Regions from separate parts of the Homo sapiens genome. Here region 2 is linked to region 1. A link means that fine-mapping ties the variant in region 1 to the expression of a gene that starts in the linked region. Tissue or cell type: prefrontal cortex. Region 1 holds a variant in brackets; the other region holds the start of a gene. All regions are shown on one strand. Distances are between the middles of the regions.

Region 1 (10,947 bases):
TCATACCTATCATGAGTGACTAATTCCAGTTCTGTTCTGTTCTGACTAACAAAGCAAATAGTTTGTGTGTAGGTTGTTTTTGGAAGGAAAATGATTTGAAACAAGGGTCTAAGCTGTTTCAGCAAAGTATATTAAGCCATCGGTAGTTTAGAATATTATTTCTATATTCCTATGAAAATAACGATAAGGCTTGTTAGAGAAGAAATATAAGCAAACCGATATATCCCTATTATCTGAGCATATGCTTTGGTTTTTCTCAATATTATCAATAAATAGCTTTTTGATAATTGGCCAGGTAGTAAGTAATCATTACGGTCAAGCTATTGACACTATTGAAGCCTGTCTTTCATTTTTGAATCAGTCCATGCCCATCCCATCTTAGGACCTTTGAACTTGCTGCTGCTTCTGCCTGAACCCTCTGCATATGGCTGGGTTCTTTTTTTATCCTTTTCCTTTAGAAGAAGGATCCCTTATGTCACCTCCTAGGAAAAGCCTTCTCTGTTCACCCTAATAAGATAGCCCAACCACCCCCATTCTAGTCTGTCTCCATCAGATTGGCTTCTTTTTACCCTTCCATCCCAGCATTATCACAGTCTAACAATAGTCTGTTTCCTTGTTTTATTGACTGAATCCCTGCATTAGGCTGTAAGCTGCATGAGACCAGGATCCTAAGCTGTCACTTTCAACACTGTTTCCCCAGGCACTAGGAAGGGGCGCAGTCACAGTAGGCATCATGAGGAACGAAGGAAGGAAGGAAGGAAGGAAGGAAGGAAGGAAGGAAGGAAGGAAGGAAGGAAGGAAGGAAGGAAGGGAGGGAGGGAGGGAGGGAGGGAGGGAGGGGGGAAGGAGGGAGGGAGGGAGAGGGGAAGGAGGGAGGGAGGAAGTGGGGGAGGAGGGAGGAAGTGGGGAAGGAGGGAGGGAGGAGAGAGGGAGGGAGGAAGGAAGGACCCACAGATAGAGCTCAAGGGCAATTCATCTCTTACTGAATTCCTCTCTGGAAAACCCAGCATCATAAGGCAGTTGTGGCTTAATTATCTTTAAAAAAACAATTTGGGGAGGGAAATAATAGGAGAAAAAGGCTAGGGAAACTTTTATTTGTTGATTTCCAAATAAGGCACTTAAAACATAGCAGAAGTTTTCAAAGTAAGCCAGAGAAAGTTTAATATCTTGTTGACAAAAGGACCGAGTTCTGTGAAATGTGAAGACATGCAGTCTGCTTTTACCTTCAAAGTGCTGTCGGTCACTCGTGCCCTCTGCTTTGACAGTAAGAATGCAAAGACACAAAATACTGCCTTGTACCTCATCAAGATTCTCTCTCACCACAGCAAGAGAAATGCAGACCCTGAATCTTGGTAATGTGTCACTATAATTTAAATATAGATCATGATGAAGACACCATACATTATGTCTAGTTTAAGTAGCTCAAGTGGAAGGAGGAGTGTGAGCGTGGGAGGGTGTGCTTGTTGAGGAGTGAGTAAATATAAGGAGAATATGGTACAAAGCATCACCTTTATAAAAAGAATAGCCCACAGCCCTACGCTTTCTATGTGGCTGTGCCTTGTCTTCCCAGCCAAGGCTGCAAACTTTTCGAACGGTAGCATGTATCTTTTTATTTTTTCTCGGAAACCAACACACTAACCTAGACTTGGGTGCACAGTGGATGCCGTATAGTCTATGCTACGTTCACCTGCCCGTGTCACCATGGATGCCTCAGGCACTTGAGCTGCAACTAAAGGTCACTCCACCACAGTGCTGGTGTAAATAGAGTCCACGTGTATATTCTGTGCTTCTGCCAACCTACCCGTCACATAGTATTAATTCTTTAACTTCATGTCCAGGCCCAGTGAAACTTTGCTTGCTTTGCCTTTCTTCGCAAGGGTGCTGTGGGGTTAATTCATTCCTGGGCACTGGGTTGAGGGCACTGGGAGCTGGACAATTTCTTACATATCCGCAGGGGCTCTTTGCATTTTTTGTCTGGTGGCAAAGCGGTACCAGAAAATATGCCTTTCCATATATAATTCCATGCTTTCCTCTAATAATAATAATACTCCATTTATAATAACCATGGGCCAGGCACGGTGGCTCACGCCCGTAATCCCAGCACTTTGGGAGGCCGAGGCAGGCGGATCAGGAGGTCAGGAGATCCAGACCATCCTGGCTAACAGGGCGAAACCCCGTCTCTACTAAAAATATAAAAAAATTAGCCTGGAGTGGTGGCGGGCGCCTGTAGTCCCAGCTACTGGGGAGGCTGATGCAGGAGAATGGTGTGAACCCGGGAGGCGGAGCTTGCAGTGAGCCCAGATCGCGCCACTGCACTCCAGCCTGGGAGACAGAGCGAGACTCCGTCTCAAAAAAAAAAAAAAAAAAAACCCATGATTTCTATATAGGAAAGCTGCCATATAGTCATTTTAATAACTGATTAAAAGGTAAGAATGACAGCCTAGAAACTACAGACCCAAGATCCAAGCCTGGAATCATGCCGTACATCTCGAAACGGGCAAATGCAATTAAAAATCCCGCAGCAGGCAGTTCAGCCATGGAGGAAGGAACATATTTTGGTCTTGAAATTTGCTTTCAGCTTCCCCAGCACTTATAATCCGATTTTCGCCAGCGGAGATGAATAATGACCCTCCTCAGCCTATTTACGGCGGATGGAGAAGAATGATGATCACACATATTGATTTTCCTCCCCCTCTTTCTTGTTGCAAGAGACTTGAGGAAAGATGATCTCGTTTATCTTGAGCCCTGCTGTGCTGGGGATGAGGTGAATAAGCATTTCCAAGGAAAAAGAGGAGGGGCCCCTAAGGTCCCAAATCAAAGAATGCGTTTGTGGGAGGGTTTCCAGCTCTGGGTCGCTGAGGAAGCTTAAGAATTTTCAACAAACAAAATGATGTTTAAAAGAAACGTCTCATACATGTTCTGAAAACTGGATGAAACGCATAGAAAATATGTTTTGTGTGGCCTGGAGCTTGTTTAATCTACTATTAGACAAGAAAAGATCCTCTATGTGTTTTCTCCACGGCTTGTTTTTAGTCAACTTTAGTGAGTGTAATTATACAATGAAAGGCACCCACGTTACGTGCGCAGGTGGGAGAGTTCTGACCAGAGCCTGGGATTGTCTGTTGCCACCTCCTCTGTGCAGGCTTTTGTCTCTCCAGGGTGCCCCTCCTGGGTCACAGAGCCCCCCACTCCTCTGGAACCCTTTTCTCCTCCCCTTCTCCTCTTCTCCATCTCACTGTGGATTGCAAACTGCCACACTTCTGAGCCCCTCTTCTGAAGGTCGTCATGCAGAGAAGGGGGTTGGGGGGTCGGCTGCCATTTTCCCAATTTCTCAGCCCAGGGCCTCACCTGAGTTGATACCTGGCAAATATCTGTGGGATCAATGTGTGGCCAAAAGACTGTGGCTTCCAGGGAGGGGCAGGGAGGGCAATTTAAGAGGAAGGGGGTCGGTTGAGGTGGCTCATATCTGTAATCCCGGCACTTTTGGGGGCCAAGATAGGAGGATTGCTTGTGACCAGGAGTTCGAGACCAGACTGGGCAACATAGCAAGACCCCATCTCTACCAAAATATATATTTATAGTGGGATGTGGTGACATGGGCCTGTGGTCCTAGCTACTCAGAAGACTGAGGCAGGAGGATCGCTTGAGCCCAGCAGATTGGGGCTGCAGTGAGCTATGATTGCGCCACTGCACTCCAGCCTGGGTAACAGAGGGAGACCCTGTCTCAAAAATAAATAAGTAAATAAATAAGAGGAAAGGGTCCTAGGTAAGATCCTTGCTGGGAGAATTGCAATTCCCACTTCAAGTGTCAGAGCTCCAGGGTGTAGATGCCAAGGTTTGATGTTTCTCACTATCTTGTACAGAGATCTCACTTACAGTGAGTAAGGAACCAGCACGTGCGGGAGGAGGGAGAGCCTAAGGGGCTGGAGTGGAGTCTGTCCTGTGTGCGGAGATGCTAGGCCACTGGAACAGATTTCTGCTGGACTGAGGGATCATGGCTTGAGCCCCACCACACTTCAGAACCCGGGGAAGGGGCAGGACAGAGCCACAACCCCTTTCTGTTCCTTAACACACACATCTTGTCCTTCTCCCTCCTTCATCCTACCCCACCACATCCCCAGCAAGCTGAGCCCTGCCTGGCTGCCAGGTCTTTGGGCAGAGCTTAGAAGCCCCTGTGTGACTGGGAGGCCAGAAACCCTTCCCTGGCCAGGAAAGAAGCTGGGGAGGCCTGAAGGTCCGACTACTCTGCCACTGCGGAAAGGGAGGTCACCCTGAGTCCCCAAGTCCAGGGCAATTCTCTGCTAATATGTGCATTTATTGCTATAATTTTCCTTTCAAATATGGCTTAATATGGCTTTAGCTGCCTTTTTTTTTTTTTT[G/TTTTTTTG]AGATGGAGTGTCTCGCTGTCACCCAAGCTGGAGTGCAGTGGCACAATCTTGGCTCACTGCAACCTCAGCCTCCTCAGTTCAAGTGATTCTCCGGCCTCAGCCTCCCTAGTAGCTGGGATTACAGGTGTGCGCCACTATTCCCAGCTAAGTTTTGTATTTTTAGTAGGGACAGTGTTTCACCATGTTGACCAGGCTGGTCTCAAACTCCTGACCTCAAGTGATCTGCCCGCCTAAGCCTCCCAAAGTGCTGGGATTACAAGTGTAAGCCACCGTGCCTGGCCTAGCTGTCTTTGATATATAGTATTTTCATAATTACTCAGATGAAAGTATTTCATAATTTACAGCATGGCTCTGTGACATGCTCTATTTAGAAGACGATTTCTTTAAATCTGTCCATTTAGGGGTGATGCAGTTGCCATCATCATCATCCTAGTTTTATTCCACAGCGAGAAGAGAAGATACGCTACGATTTCAATTATTTGAATGGCTTACAATTGGCTGGGTGGTAAAGCTTGTGGACAATTTGGGGACATATTCCATGTTCTGTGATTGTTGGCTTCTGCGTTCTAATACGCCATTTGGATCAAGCCTGTATTTCTGCAGTGCAAAACTCCTATATTCCTAAACATTTTATGCCAGAGCTCTATCAGTTAAGAGAGGTTTGAGAAAATCTCCCACTGTGATTGTCTATTTCTTATATTTCTTCCTTTGGTTCTGTCAAATTTTTGCTTTCCACTTGTATGTGCTGTTTAGACTTGCTTTCTCGTCACATCATCGTATACTTTGAAGCACTTTTTGCCATAAAATCTGTTAAAAGAACGCCAGCCTACTTTTGTTTCTTGTCTGAATAATGCTTCCCTGGGCTTTTACTTTTATTCTTCCATATTTTAAATATGAAGAAATGTCTTCATATTTAAAATCCCTATAGTGTAAGCATTATGTGGCTGAGTTGTACATTTTATCTTGTTTGACAAAGCTTAAATTTTTATTGGATGTTGGTTAATTTACGTGTGATGATTTTAGTGATATGTTTGTGTTCAGATTTGTTTCCGTTTGCTGCATTCATTTTTCCCTCCTGTTGAATCCTTGCATTAACAGATTATTTTGATTTAGCATCCTCCATTAGCATGTTATTATTCAGTTCCCCTGGAGACTATGATGTGCATCTTTGATTCATAATTCATAATAATTAAAGATAAATTAATGCTTTCATCATAACCTTAAAAATGTTAACAATTTAAGACATTTTAATTCATTCCATTTCTTCTGTCTTTTGATTTGTTGGATTCACGTTTTTAAATTCTACATACATTTTGAAACTCACAAGGTATTATTGTTATTATGATTGATTTATGCAGTTTAGGTTTATCACAGATTTTTTAAAAATTTGTATTCATTATTCCTTTCATTTATATTTATCTGTCTGAAATGATTTTCCTATCCCTAAAACTGACTGACGTGGTTTGGATACTTGTCCCTTTAAGTCTCATGTTGAAATGTAATCCCCAGTGTTGGAGGTGGGCCTAGTGGGTGGGGTTGGGATCATGGGAATGAATCCCTCATGAGTGGCCTAGCACCATCTCCTTGGTGATGAGTGAAGCGGTTGTTTAGAAGTGTGTGGTGCCTCCTCCCTTTTCTCTTTGTCCTGCTCTTGCCATGTGATGTGCTGGCTCCCTGTTGCCTTCTGCCATGATTGGAAGCTCCCTGAGGCCTCACCAGAAGCAGATGTCAGCACCATGCTTCCTGTAAAGTCTGCAGAACCATAAGCCAATTAAACCTCTTTTCTTTATAAATGACCCCAACCTTAGACATTTCTTTATAGCAATGCAGGAACAACCTAACACACTAACAAATTGTATGGTTTTTAGTGTACATTTGGTGGCACTGAATTCTCTCAGTCTTTCTTTTATATAAATTTTCATTTTGCCTTCATTTTAAACTTTTTTGGTATGTTATTTCTAGATAGAGAATTCAAAGATGACAGGCATTTTCTTTCAGTTATCTCTTTTACTTAATTTGTATAAATTTAAGGGTACAAATGCTATTTTTTATTAAGTGGTTGTTTTGCCTAGTGGTGAAGTCTGGGCTTTTAGTGTGTCCATCATCTGAATAATGCACATTGTATCCGTTAAATAATTTCTAATCATCCACACCCCTCTCCCCACTCCCTGACCCTTCCAAGTCTCCAATGTGTATCATTCTACTCTCTATGTAATTTGATTTGGTTGTCTTCAGACTTAATTTTGGTTTTGTGGTGTGTGTGTGTGTGTGTGTGTGTGTGTGTGTTGTTTTTGATAGGGTCTTGCTGTGTCTCTCAGGCTGGAGAGCTGTGGTGCAATCACTGCTTACTACAGCCTCTACCTCCCAGGCTCAAGTGATCCTCACACCTTAGCCTTCTGAGTAGCTGGGACTACAGGCATGTGCTCCACACCCAGCTAATATTTTTTTAATTCTTTTGTAGAGACAGGGTCTTACAATGTTGCCCAGGCTGACCTAGAACTCATGGTCTTAAGAGATCCTCCTGTCTCAGCCTCCCAAAGTGCTGGCATTATAGGTATGAGCCATCCACTGTGCCTGGCCAATTTTGTATGCTGAGAAATTAGCTAAAATTCTTATTATTGCCTCTTTGAATAGAATGTGTGTTTTTCCCTTTGTTTTTGTTTTCATTGGTTTGCACTGGTGTGTCTAAGTGTTTTATTTTCCTTGTATTCCTCTTGCATTGGGTTAGTAGAAATTCTTTAATCTATGCTTACATTTCCATGATCAAGTTTAGATATTTCTTATCCGTGATTTTTTCAAGTATTTTTTCTACCCTATTCTCTCTTCCTCTAAGAGTCTAGATACAAATTTGATAGGCTTTTTAAAAAATAAATAAAACAAAGTAGTTTTAGATCTATAAAATTATAAATTTATATAATAGGGAGAGTTCCCACATACCCCACACTGAGTTTCATTTTGTGTTAACATCTTACATTAATATGAAACATTTGTCACAACTAATGAATCAACATTAATACATTATAATTGATATGGTTTAACTGTGTCCCCATCTAAATTTCATCTTGAATTGTAGGTCTTATAATGCCCACGTGTCATGGGAGGGACTAGGTGGAGATAATTGAATCATGGAGGCTGTTTTCTCCATCCTGTTCTCATGATAGTGAGTGATTTCTCTTGAAATCTGATGATTTTATAAGGGGCTTCACACTGCACTTCTGCTTCCTGCTGCCATGTGAAGAAGGACATGTTTACTTCCCCTTCCACCGTGACTGTAAGTTTCCTGAGGCCTCTGCAGCCATGCTGAACTGTGAGTCAATTTAACCTCTTTCCTGTATAAATTACCCAGTCTTGGGTGTGTCTTTATTAGCAGAATGAGAATGGACTAATACAATCATTAATTAAAATCCATACTTATTTCAGGTTAATTTTGGTTTCTTAGTTTTTCTTTAATGTCCTTTTTCTATTTCGGGATCTCATCCAGAATACCTTATTCCATCTAGTAGCCATATCTTCTTAGGCTTCTTTATGCTATGACAGTTCCTCAAAGTGTCCTTGTTTTTTCATGACTCATACAACATGTAGCCATTTCAGATTGGTCATTTTCAGTAGCAATATACATTTAAGATTCATTCACATTTTCATGTTTCTGAACAGTTCATTCCTTTACACTGGTGTACAATATACCATTGTATGGATGTACCAGGTTTGTTTAATCATTTGTAAAACTATATCTCCATTACTTCCAGTGTCTGTTGAATATGAATAAATCTATTAAAATATTCATATGTGAATTTGGTGTGAACATGCTTTTTTTTTGAGACAGGGTCTTGCTCTGTTGCTCAGGCTGGAGTGCAGTGGCATGATCTCAGCTCACTGCAAACTCAGCCTCTAAAGCACAAGCAATTCTCCCACTTCGGCCTCCCAAGTAGCTAGGACTACAGGCATGCACCACCATGTCCAGTTAATTTTTGTATTTTTTGTAGAGATGGGGTTTTGCCATGCTGACCAGGTTGAGTCTTGAATTCCTGAACTCAGGCGATCCACCTGCCTCAGCCTCCCAAAGTGCTGAGTCATGAGCCATGGAGTCTGGCCAAAAATACATTTTTAAGTCAGTTGGTTAAATACTTAGGAACATGGTAGCTAGATTGTAATGATAAGACTATGTTACACTTTGTTGAGAATCTGCCAAATTTTCCTCAAAATTGCCAGTACCATTTTGTCATCCCACCAGCAATACAATACCATACTAATAGTTGTACAATTGCATTGCGTCATTATTTTCATTTTCATTTCCTTAATGGTGAATGATGCTGAACATCTTTTCATATACTATTTGCCACCAAAACACTGTAAAGTGTCTCTTCAGGACTTTTGCCATTGTTTGATTGGGCAGTTTGGGGATTATATATTTTTTTCTTACTTTGGAGTTGCATTGTTTTTAATAATTTTAACTTTCATTTTAGATTTGGGGTTACATGTATACATTTGTTACATGGGCATATTGTGTGACACTTAGATTTGGTTTATGAATGATCTTGTCACCCAGCTAGTGAGCATAGTGCCCAACAGGTAGTTTTTCACCCCTTTCTCTCGTTCCCCTTTCCACTTCTAGTAGTCCCCAGTTTCTATTGTCACCATCTTTATGTCCATGATTACCTAATATTTAGCTCCCAGTTATAAGTGAGAACATGTAGTATTTGGTTTTCTCTCACTGCACTAATTCACTTAGGATGATGGCTTCAAGTTGCACCCATGTTACGGCAAAGGACATGATTTTTTTCTTTTTTATGGCTGGGTAGTATTCCATGGTGTGTCTATACCACTTTATTTCTTAATCCAATCTACCATTGATGAGCACCTACATTGATTCCATATCCTTGCTATTGTGAACAGTGCTATGATGAACATATATGCATGCTGCTAATGCCACAGAATTTTGTAGAATTATTTATTTTCCCTTGAGTATATACCCAATAATGAGATTGCTGGGTCAAATGGTAGTTCTGTTTTTAATTCTTTAAGAAATCTCCAAATTGCCTTCCACAGTGACTGGACTAATTTACATTCCAACAAACAGTGTACAGCCTCACCAGTGTCTATTTTTTTTTTTGTATTTTTAATAATCACCATTCTGACTGGTATGAGATGGTATCTCATTGTGGTTTTGATTTGCATTTTGCTGATGATTAGCAATATTGAGCAATAGGTTTTGTGACCACTTATATGTCTTCTTTTGAGAAGTATCTGTTCATGTCCTTTGCTCACTTTTTAATGGGGTTATTTGTTTTTTGCTTGTTGACTTAAGTTTCTTATAGATTCTGGATATTAGACTTTCACTGGATTAATAGTTTGTGAATATTTTCTTTCATTCTGTGGGTTGTCTGTTTACTCTATTGATAATTTCTTTTGCTGCGCAGAAACTCTTTAGTTTAATTAGGTCCCACTTATCAATTTTTGTTTCTGTTGCAATTGCTTTTGAGGACTTAGTCATAAATTCTTTGTCAGTGCTGATGTCCAGAATGGTATTTCCTAGGTTTTCTTCTGGGATTTTTAAAGTTTGAGGTCTTACATTTAAGTTTTTAATACATCTTGAGTTATTTTTGTACATGGTGAGAAGTAGGGGTCCAGTGTTACTCTTTGGCATATGAGTAGCCAGTTATCACAGCACTATTTATTAAACAGGGAGTCTTGTCTCCATTGTTTATTTTTGTCATCTTTGTCAAAGATCAGATGGTTGTAGGCGTATGACTTTATTTCTGGGTTCTGTATTTTGTTCTATTGGTCTATGTGTGTTTTTGTACCAGTACCATGCTGTTTTGTTTATTGTAGACTTGTGGTATAGTTTGAAGTTGGGTAATGTAATGCCTCTGACTTTCTTCTCAAGTTTATATTTTTTGTGGCTTCTACTCCACATAAAAAGATCTCACTTGTGCTGTCTTTCTGGATTTGCTTGTCCCTTTAGATTTGGGGATGTCAGTTTGGTCTGTGATCTCAATTATCTGATGAGTCCAAGAGAAGTTATGGACTTTCTGTATATTCCATTTATTTATTTATTTATTTATTTATTTATTTATTTATTTATTTATTTGTAAGGCTATGAATAATGACTTCTGAACTCTTTATAGGTAGAATCTGAAACTGGAAATCCTTGAAGGACTTTTTTTTCCATGTCAATGGTGTATAAAAATGCCTGCACATTCTCTGTTACTCCTTTCCTTGAAAGGTGAAGTTTATTTGATCTTCCCTTGAATTATAGTTAACATTATTAAGGCTCCGATGATAGAATATAGCAGAAATCATGTTCTGATAGCCCCTAAAAGATACTGCAAGGACACTGTCATCTTCTAATACTTCTTTGTTGAAATACATACTCTTGAAATGCTCCTATTTGGAGTTGAGTCACTGAAAAATTCCACAGAAGAATTATCTGCTGGAGAGAGAGCTCATTTGGGGGAACACAAAGGCATCAGACATATAAAATACTCAACCTTTGATATTTCTGCATCTAGTAGTTTGTGTCATCCTAGATGACACCCCAGACATCATGGAGCTTTGGTGAGTTGGCTC
Region 2 (10,947 bases), 35 kb after region 1:
GATCTCTGTGCCAGCTGATGCTCTTCAAGTGCAGGTTTCTGGAAACCCTTCTCCAACTGGTTTCAACAAAACAGAAGAGTTCACTGATGAACAGAACTACAAAGCCCAAGAGTAGAACTGACTGACTAGACTCAGGGGCCGGAACAACGAATCCAGTCTCTTCCTCCTTCTCTGTATCTTTGGTAAATGTTAGATTTCATTTTCAGATTCCACTCACCATCTCAGGCTTCTATAATCTATATGCTTAGTGATACCTGAGGAAAAAATGTAGTATCTTTATCTGGTAATTTCTTAGGAGTCCCAGAACTCATACTAATAATCAGCTCCACCTTATTGAAAATTCATAATAATCAGCTCAACCTATTCAAAATCCTAACACTTAACTGTGGCCACCATGGTCAGAGGGATGGAGTGAAGAGGCTTGGAGAAGCCCCACTCATGTGCCTCCTGGTTCCTAATGACAGCAGCAGGGAAGAGGGTGGGTTTCTGATGCTCTAACTGGTCAGAAGGAAAGCCTCATTAAAATCCCCAGGTTATAAAAATAACTAAATCAAAATAAAATTTGTTACTGTGAGCCCAACAAATGAGTTGGGACATGAACAACATCAACAATTGTCTGCCCCGATAGCCACTAATTACCTTTGGGTGAGGCAGCACCATTTTGCTGGAAGAGGTTCTGCCTCTTGTGGATATGGATGGTTCTCTATTATTGTTACCAGCACCTGAAGGTGATATGGCTCTGATTAGTGGAGGAACACCAGATTCTTCTTCTCAAGTCAAATTAGAAAAAAACTACAGGGACACACGTGGAGTAGTTTTAAGGAGCGGAGAGTTTAATAGGCAAGAAGGAAGGGAGAAGACAAAAGCAAGAAGCTCCCTCGTACAGAGACAGAGAGGAGGAGTCTCCAAACCCAAAAGAGGAAACCCCAAGTTGGGTGGATACCTGCCAGGTATATGTAGAGGCTGGAGGAGGCGGTGTCTGATTTGCATAGGGCTTAGGGGATAGGTTTGACCAGGCATGTCATTTACGTAGCCCTGGAAAAAACTGACCCTCCCACCCTAGCCTTTGAATATGCAAATACAGGCCGCCATGATGTTCCACACACGTGGGGATATGTGGGGGTGGCCATGTTGCCAGGAACATGTGGGGCAAGGGCAAGAAGGCAGCCAGAATCCCCATGTGTGGGTGGACCTAGTTTCTAATGGCTCTCATTTGCTTATCAAAGGCTGCCCACCTGGCTCTAACAGCTGGGGCTTTCCAGCTAGACAGGAAATGTCTTTAAAAATGAAAATTTCCCAAGTACCCCTTTTTATCTCTATCCGCCTAAAATAATTTCTTAATAACTCTTACCACACAAGCATCCTCCTTCTTTAAATATTTCCTTGTTTATTTTACTAGGGAAAAAGAGCTGGTGTTGTCACCATTGTTCAATTTAAAGACCTAATTGGAATTACTCAATTTTACACAATTTCTCAGAATGGGTATCAAATTCCCTGGGTCCATAATCCACATAAAAAGAGAGATTAGGGTGTTCGGCACCTTTCTTAATATGCAAAACTAAAATTCTGGATGCTACTAATAAGATAGTCCTTTCTTTTTCAGACTGTCGGAAACATTATAGCCAAACAAAGATTCTGGTTTATTTTTCTCAAGGAAAGTGGAACTGATGTTGGAATTGTGAGGAGATTTAGACATCATCAGAAACGATTCATGTCATGATGTTGGAAGTCTCCTTTCTTCTTTAGTTCTGACAATGCGATGTAAAAGAGTATATATTTTATTTAAATTTCTATCTTTATCCATATACAATTGATAAATAAAATTGTAGACATTTAAGGTGTACAACATGATGTTTGGAAATACATATGCATTGTGGAATAATTACCACAATCGAGCTATTTAACATATCTCATCTCACATAATTACCATTGTGTGTGTGTGTGTTTAGTGAGAGCATTTAATATTTCAATCCTTAGCAAATTTCTAGTATATAATACAGGATTATTACCTATAGTCACAATGCAGTACATAGATCTCCACAACTTATTTATCCTGCATAAGTGAGATTTTGTACCCTTTGACCAATATCTCCCTATTTTCCTTTCCCTGCGGGCCCTGGCAACCATCCTTATACTCTCTGCTTCTATGAAGGTAATTAGTTTTAATTCACCTCCTGGGGTAGCAGTTTCAGTAATCAAACACTCACATTCCTGCATTGATTAGCAAATGCCCAATTAGAAAGTCCACAGTCCAGAAGTTCTCACTAAAGCCTGTCAGCTGCCATTTTCTATGTCTGCTCAACACTGGAGGTCTCACTAGCTAGTGTAATTCATCTAGAAATGCTATTTCCTTGGAAAGTGTAGTGGTGTGTTCTCTAGCAACATGGATGTAGAAAATGGGCTTTCATTGACGAGAAAGGCAGATGGAATAAACTGAATCAGTCACTCCTCACACCTGCAAAACAAGGTCTCACCATCTCATAAGCCCCATACTCTATACTTGTAGGGAGAGCACATGAAGTCAAACCCCTAAACCACCCTCCATCCAGTCACTGAGATGGCAAATTCAGGTTGCCAGATGCCAACTGTGATGGATTTCTTCTTTTAGAACATTGTCATAACTGTCCCATGGGGATCTTTTATGGCATGTGTTATGTGTTGAAGGACTCATGTGTTGAAGTCTTTGTTTTCTTTTTGTTGTTGTTGTTGTTGTTTGTTGTTGTTTGAGATGGAGTTTTGCTCTGTTCCCCAGGCTGGAGTGCAGTGAGGTGGTCTCTGCTCACTGCAACCTCTACCTCCCAGATTCAAGCAAGTCTCCGGCCTTAGCCTCCCAAGTAGCTGGGATTGCAGGCATGTGTCACCACACCTAACTAATTTTTGTATTCTTAGTAGAAACAGGGTTTCACCATGCTGGCCAGGCTAGTCTCGAACTCCTGACCTCAGGTGATCCACCCACCTTGGCCTCCCAAAATGCTGGGATTGGAGGCATGAGCCACCACGCCAGGCCTCATGTGTTGAAGTCTGAACCTCCAATGTGACTGTACTTGGATATAGGGTCCTTTAAAGAACTAATGAAGATTAACGGAGGTCCTAACAATGGAGCCTAATCCAGTTTGATTTGTGTTCCTAGAAGAGGAAGAGACATGAGAGATACGCACAGTGAAGAGACCAAGCTGGGACACAGTACGAAGGTGGCATCTGCACGCCAAGCAGAGGGACCTCAGAAGAAACTGAGCCAGCCAGCACCCCACCTTCGTCTTTGACCTCCAGCCTCCAGAACTATGAGATATACCTTTCTGTTGTTTAATCCATCCAGGCTGTGTCATTTTGTTATTGCAGCCTGAGAGACCATTACAGAATGTGTAGTTGGATCACTTACAAGGATAGAGGATCTGGGTATCGTACAGTTTACAGAATGTATGGACCGCTGTGTTCCTATTGATAATATGTATTAATTATCAAATACTCATGTGTATGGCAGAATTTGTCCTGAGGCTTTGTTTCCTCTTAATCTGATTGTGAAGTTGGAGAAAAGGCTAATCCCTTGCCCAGCTCAAACTCTGACAAATATGTAATATTATTTCAAAAATGGTTTCCCATGACCCAAAGGGCTGAGGCTACTTCATGGCATTTGCTCTTTGACTCACCTGGACAATCTCTAGAAATGCACCTGAACTCGCCTGATGAAGTGCCCAATATTTCCCATTGTTCTAGGGAGCTGGGTTTTTTTAGCATGGAAATGAGATGATAATGAAGCCTGAGGTCTTCCTGAAGTCATTTGGTTGGCTATCTTGGCTCTAATCAGTTTCAGCTGGTCTGGTTAAAAAGGGAACTTTTTATTGCAGGCATCCTTAAAGAGTAGCAGAGTTAGGATAGGGTAGAAATTCAGCTATGTCACATAGGCATTATACTAGGTAACACTAACACCAGGGAAGAAACAGTACCCTTCTCACGAGTGGGGCACTGTCACCAAGGAGATGGTGGGGTGGAGCTCTGCCTACCAACCAAACCGTACATCAAGACTTTATTCTCTTCTTATGCTCTAGAATTTCACAGTAGTATTGGAGATAGGACATTTCCTTAAAGAAAGATGGAAAGCTAAAACAGGTTGCTATTGATCCGCTGGATACAAACAGCTTGCATGTCTGCAAATTATTCTGGTTGACTTGTGCCCAGTCCTGTTCATACAAGGACTTCAAAGACTCACCGGTTCATTCTGGAAACACAGATATTTAAAAACCTCCCATGTTAGCCAGGCACAGCGGCTCTGTAATCCCAGCACTTTCGGAGGCCAAGGCAGGTGGATCACTGGAGGTCAGGGGTTTGAGACCAGCCTAGCCAACATGGTGAAACCCCATTTTTATAAAAAATAAAAATTAACCAGGCGTGATGGTGGGCGCCTATAATCTCACCTACTCGGGAGTCTGAGGCATGAGAATCGCTGAAACCTAGGAGGTAGCGGTTGCAGTGAGCCCAGATCATGCCATTGTGCTCCAGCCTGGGTGACAGAGCGAGACTCTGTCTCAAAACAGAAACAAAAACCACAACGAAAAAACCTCCCATGTTCTTAGGCTCTGGCTCTGTCTGGGACATCTGCTGTCCATAGAGTAACCAAGGGCTATTTCCCAGCCACTAATTCCAGAGGTTTCCAGAGGGTTTTGTTCCCTCCTTCTTTGAACACTGCAGTCCATCAGGGTTTCAAGTAGTCCTGGTTTCCCAAAGTCTTGGTTGAAACCTGAAACACAGGACATTTGACCAAAAAAACAAAACAAAACAAACAAAAAGAAAAAAAGCCCCTATCCTAATGCCACAGAGACCCCAAAACAATTCACCAAGTGCATCAGGCCTCAGAGAATCAAATCAACTCTTTCAGTCTCTGCCAATGGCCATTCTCTCCATAAGTCTCGGGCAAAATTCCCGGTGGGAGGCAAATGAAGCCGTGTCTACACATCTGCTGTCCTCCCTCCCACACACCCTCTCCACTTCCTTCCTCGGTAGGTCACAATCAAAACACCTATGCAAATTTAGTGATTCTTTATAATTTCTTATCCATTGAGCCTCTCATGCTGTGCTTTATCAGTTTTCCATGACCACGAGACGCTCGCAGAACAAGCTAGTGCTTGGGACAACTGAAGATGAAAAATAGATCATTGGAGGTTGTGATCTAGCAAGGAAGATTAGGTTTATACCTAGAAAAGTTAGAAAAGCAGGCGCCTAGAGAGCCAGGTGTCACCATTTTAAAATTAACTCCATCTTTAAACTCGCAACACACATTCCTTGCCAGTTATGACCCGTGGTCATAAGATGTTTACTGCAGAGGAAACCGCTTGGCAATGCCTGCAAGGACAAACTCCTACAACAGCAGAAAGTCCACATGTCCCAATATCACATAACAATATATGCTTTTAAGAAATGTACAATCATGCTTTCATGTACTTATAAACTAAAATGCCAAGGATAACTTTCTTTAAATGGCCAAAGTACTACATCTTGTCACATTGTCAGCCCACCCACACACAGAGATAGCTTAGCTTTTATGTAGATGAGACCCCTGTGTAAGAAGAGTTTAAAACAAAGACAGGGCATTCCTCCTCTTGCTTTCTGAGGACACCCTACTCTGAATCTGAAGAATTTTCAATAAATGATCTCTTCTCACTACACTCTACAACTCACCTTGAATCCCTTTCTGTGGGAGGTCCAGGAACCCTCTCTTGAGGTCTGGATCATAGGGACCCCTTTTTCCAGCAACACAAACATTGACAATATAAAAATAAAGAACATGTTTATCTATGATATCAATGTCTGTATCTGTAAGTATACCTAGCTCAAAATCTGTCTCTTTATTTAGTTTTCTAACTATATGTCTATCTGTATCATAGACATATTAGAAATCATAATTTCTAACATATTGTTGTAGGAGGTCATAACAGAACCTATTATAAAGTGACAGTCTCTTGCTCCTATTTTCTATTATTTCCCATTCAGTCCAGGTAAGTCTTTTTGGGGGACCCTCCCCCACACCCGCTGGAACAGTTACTCTGGCACAGCCGCTCCAGCCTGGATCTCATTTTTGCTTCTCCTGGACTTCTCACTGTGCAGATGTTAGACTCACACTCTCCTCTGGCCTCCTGCTCCTGCTCTGAAAGTGAGCAGTTGTCCCTCTGGGTGGCATTTGAAGTCAAAGCTGGGTCTCTTGACAGTGCCCACCCCTGGTATTCCCACTGCAGGAGGGAGGCCTCTTCTGTTAACAGTGACAGTTATTACAGAACAATGCCTGGAGAGATGATAACTTAGAGCAATTTCATTGTCTTTCCCCTTGACGACTCAGCTCCCACGCTAGAGCAGGTGAGGCAGTGCTTAGGAATAACAAAACAAAATCGCAAAGCCAGGACTTCCTTGAGTTTACTTTGCTTTCTCACTAGATTTTAATTATTATTATTATTATTATTATTATTATTTTGAGATGGAGTTTCACTCTCGTCACCCAGGCTGGAGTGCAATGACGGGATCTCAGCTCACTGCAACCTCTGCCTCCCGGGACCAAGCTATTCTGCCTCAGCCTCCTGAGTAGCTGGGATTACAGGCACCCGCCACCAAGCCTGGCTCATTTTTGTATTTTTAGTAGAGACAGGGTTTCACCATGTTGGCCAGGCTGGTCTCGAACTCCTGACCTCAGGTGATCCGCGTGCCTCAGCCTCCCAAAGTGCTGGGATTACAGGTGTGACCCACGGTGCCCGGCCTCTGACTAGCTTTTTGGAAAATTTCATAGAATGATCCAGGGTTCCAGATTCAATTTACTTTAAGGTGAAATAAGTGGGCTGGTTAGCAAGTGGTCAGCTTTTCTTTGGTGTGAGGATAAAAAGAGGGTGGCTACTTTCTATGGCTTTCCAAACAGTCTCTGTTTCACTTAGTCCAAAAACACGTAATGTTCATATAACAAAGAAATGATACATATTTGAGGTGATGATATACTAAGTTGCCTAATTGGATCATTCCGCCATGTATACAGGTATCAAAACATCACATTTTGTTCTATAAATATATACAGTTACTATTTGTGAATTTAAAATCAAACTATAAAAAATACATTCTACTAATGTTCTAAGATGACTTCTGAGACATTTAGCGTGTATTGATTACTTATACTATGTCTCTCACTGCTTCTACTCATTGAAGAGGTTTATATTGTAAGTAAACATAATTCTTATCATATTCATTTTACAGATAAGGAAACTAAAGTGCAGAATAAATATTTGTCCAAATCTGCACGAGAAAGAGGTTCAACACAGGGCTAGCACCCAGGGATGTCTAGTTTTCAGGACCCACCCTCTCGCGTAGTACACTGCCCCTCCCTCCATTCACTGCAGTTAGGATTCAGGAGCAATAACTGGACACAGTCAAGCCAGTTTGCATCTTTACAGAAAATTCCACCCATTTCGATTAGTGAAGATTCACACGTTTAGCTATGATTTGGCTCCCAGAATTCCTCCAAGTCAGAATATAAACAGAGCTAGACATAGTTCAGACAGTTGTGTCATACCAAAAAAATTTTTAAAAGGATACAGAATCAATCAATCAAGTAGAAAATGAGACATTTTTCATTAAGCTAAAAATAATTAAGTCAATTATTTGGCACTAATGCAACTCTTAAGCCCCGCGGGTGGGAACTTTTGGTTCATAAAAAGTGTTTAGTTCAGATCTGAGCTGAAACAACTTTCAATCTCATTTTCAAGTAGAAAGATGGCAAGGGCCGAGGCGGGCGGATCACAAGGTCGGGAGATCTAGACCATCCTGGCTAACACGGTGAAACCCCGTCTCTACTAAAAATATAAAAAATTAGCCAGGCGTGGTGGCGTGCACCTGTAGTCCCAGCTACTCGGGAGGCTGAGGCAGGAGAATGGCGTGAACCCGGGAGGCGGAGCTTTCAGTGAGCCGACATTGCGCCACTGCACTCCAGCCTGGGTGACAGAGCAAGACTCCGTCTCAAAAAAAAAAAAAAAGAAAGAAAGAAAAAAAAAGAAAAGATGGCAAGGGCTCCTTTACACACCAATAAAATCAGAACAAATACGTATAAGCAACTAGGACAATCCTGGAATATTGTGGGCACCAAGTAAATATCGTGGATGCATCTTATGCAGCCAGACAGGATGATCCAATAATCAGACATCCGAAGGCTCCTGGAGTTTGATCCTCTGAATTCACTCTGCAATATGAAGTCCTGTTATTCTTGGCAACCGATCGTGCTTTTGAAAAAGTGTGTCCCAACTGAGATAACATTGAAATTTTCTGTTTAAAGACACCTCAAATGACTGTGCTCAGGAGTCAGTGTTCCCATCAATGGGTCTGAAGATATTCCTAAGCTCCAAGCCATAATAAATGGCATCTGAAATTATTTCAAGATTAATCATCCTGGGTAGACCTTGAGGGTTAGTCTGAAATTGTACATAACAACCCGGAAAAGCTGTGCATTGCCCAGCTAAAGTGTGGTCCCTGAAAGCCATCACCTGGGCCAGGTAGGCTGCTAGGCCACCCAGAGTAGAAAAATACAGAGCAGCCTACGGGCATATTTTCTTACCCAAGGCCAGTTTAGACAGAAGAGTCACTTGAATAATTGTCCACTTCGTTCGTTCTTCAATCCCAGAGGATACTTACTTTTGGAATATTCACTTTACTCCCCACATAGCCATATTTTTCTCACTTAACTCCATCTCTTCTTCTCTTTAAGGCCTGGTAGAAAATGGCCAAATTTTATAAAATGAGGCAGAAGTGCCTCTAACATTGCCCATATGTGGGAAGATGAAACCTAGGAAAGACAGCTTAGAAGGAGGGAGTCATGGTACCCACTGGGGTTCCTCAATGAGAACATTGTAGAAGGTGTAAATTGGCGGACTCAAGGCTGAATGCAGCCTATAGGTATATTTTCTTGGCCTACATGTCATTGCTTTTAAAATCACATTGGTTTTCAATAGCCAAAGTTCAGGGGGTTTTATATGCAGGGTCCTGGGTTTCAGGCTACTCTTTAAAAGTTTAGAAGATGTGGCAATGCTGGGCCTGTGTTTCTGCATAGCAGCAAAGGCCAGGAGCAGAGTAGCAGCTGCTTGCCTCAGAGGTGGCATTAGATCTTCAGGACACCGCAGTCCCCACCACTCCCAATTGCCTTAGCCTGGTTTCTGACACTCATTTATATCACTTGTTAGGCTGCTATGGGCATTGGAGTTTGTGTCTCCTAATTTAATACCTTTGGAAAACATTACTAAAAAACACATTTCCACAAATAGACTTGGCAGTATGGCAGAAATGCAAAAGTTAATCAGACCTACATCCTGCCCCCATATAAAAATAAAGTGCAGAAGAGCATATATAGTATGTTTCTATTTGGGCAAAAAGAAATCCCACATCTTCCCTCTCTCTATGCAATGCAAGTGCACAGTGCATAAATCACAAAGATCTCTTAGCATTGGATGCAGTAGATATATCTACACGATTTGAATTTTTTATCAAATGCTTATATTAATTTTTTAATAAGAGATCTAATTGTTATGATAGTTTCCAGAGATGGCTATCATAAATATTATTCCTCTTTCTACGCACATTACACTCAAACTGTTAAGAAAGGGAGTCAATTTCTCCTCCCTTTGTATCTGGGCTAGCAGTATAACTTACCTTGAACAAGAGAAGGTGGTAACGGGTCACTGTGATGATTCCAGTCACCGTCTATAAGAGGTCCAACAGCTTTTGCTTTCTCTCTGGGGAAAACCAGGCACTGTGTAAGAACTCCAGCCACTATGCGGCTGCCATGCCGTGAGGAAGCTCACACAAGCCATGTGGATAGGGATGACCCAAGTAACCAGGCCGCCAGTGACCACAGAGGCCTGAGGTGTGTGATCCCAGTTGAGTCACCACTATTTGTGACATCCCAGCCAAGGATCCAAACATCGTGGAGCAGAGAAAGCCCCTCTCATCCTAGCTTGTCTGCATTGCTGATACAAAAGTGGTGAGCAAATAAATGATTGCTTTAAGCTCCTAATTTGGAGTAGTTTATGATGGGGTGATAGATCCTTGAAACAATAATGAAGCAAACAGTTGGCATTCTAGAACACAAACAGTAGAAAACGGGTGTGCACAAGACAAGCTGGACACATAGAATCATATCATCTTTCTGACTGAGAAATATTGCAGGTGCAATAACATGCATCTGTCATCAAAGGGCATCTCAGGTAGGTCCAAGTTGAGCTTAGCAGCCTGTATTCAGTTGGGAGCCATTGAGTTATAGCAGGAGTGTCTCCCATACTTCATTGTGAAGTCTCTAAGACAAAACAAACCCCTCTGAGCTTTAGTTTCCACACAAATGGGTAATATTGCTATCTCACCCTTTCCAAAGGCTTGTTGAGAAAATGAAATAACATAACTGTGGCTGCAAGTGTTTTGTAACTTGGGAAGGGCATACAGATCTGGTGAGTTACTAGAGCGGAGTTAAAGAGAAACAACATTCAGGTACTGACTTCAAGCAAAGCCAGTTCATGAAAGGCAAAGTAGGAGATAAGACTGTGGACACAGTGGCCTGGTTAAGACCTTGGTTCTGTGACTTATGCACTGCTTGCCTTGCAGCAGGGTGCTTGGAAACTCTGTGCCTTATTTTGCTCATGGTGAGTGAGAATTGTAACACCCACATTACAGAGGCATTTTGTAGTATTAATGAGTTAACATGCAAATATGCTTAAAACAGTGCTTGGCACACATTGAGAGCTTAATAAATATGAGCCATTAATTTTATTATTATTGCTACTATAATTAGGACCTAGAACATCTTCATAGTTCTAATGTAGTTCTGTTTCTACAGCATACAGTTAATTCTTAACATTTCAGATGTGATACTGCATTTCATCCTACCATTATCTTTATGAGAAAGTTTCACTGAAATTCTCACTAGTCAGCCACTTATTTCTG

Evidence for each region.
Region 2: LINC02347 starts here. The variant in region 1 is fine-mapped to the expression of LINC02347 in prefrontal cortex (BrainSeq, PIP 0.95).

The regions. Positions count from the first base shown.
Region 1 is chr12:126,472,421-126,483,367 of GRCh38, reverse strand. LINC02347 (long intergenic non-protein coding RNA 2347) reads right to left here. Exons shown (of 12, transcript NR_130748.1): 12 at 10,583-10,782. Among named protein-coding and RNA genes, the nearest start is that of LINC02825, 29 kb to the right of the region's middle. RefSeq lists a silencer at 2,611-2,905. The variant G/TTTTTTTG (reference allele first, on the strand shown) is at 4,380.
Region 2 is chr12:126,437,754-126,448,700 of GRCh38, reverse strand. LINC02347 (long intergenic non-protein coding RNA 2347) reads right to left here and starts at 6,220. Exons shown (of 12, transcript NR_130748.1): 1 at 6,113-6,220; 2 at 5,674-5,735; 3 at 3,648-3,816; 4 at 640-722. LINC02825 (long intergenic non-protein coding RNA 2825) reads left to right here. Exons shown (of 4, transcript NR_147498.1): 2 at 3,131-3,281. RefSeq lists an enhancer at 1-698.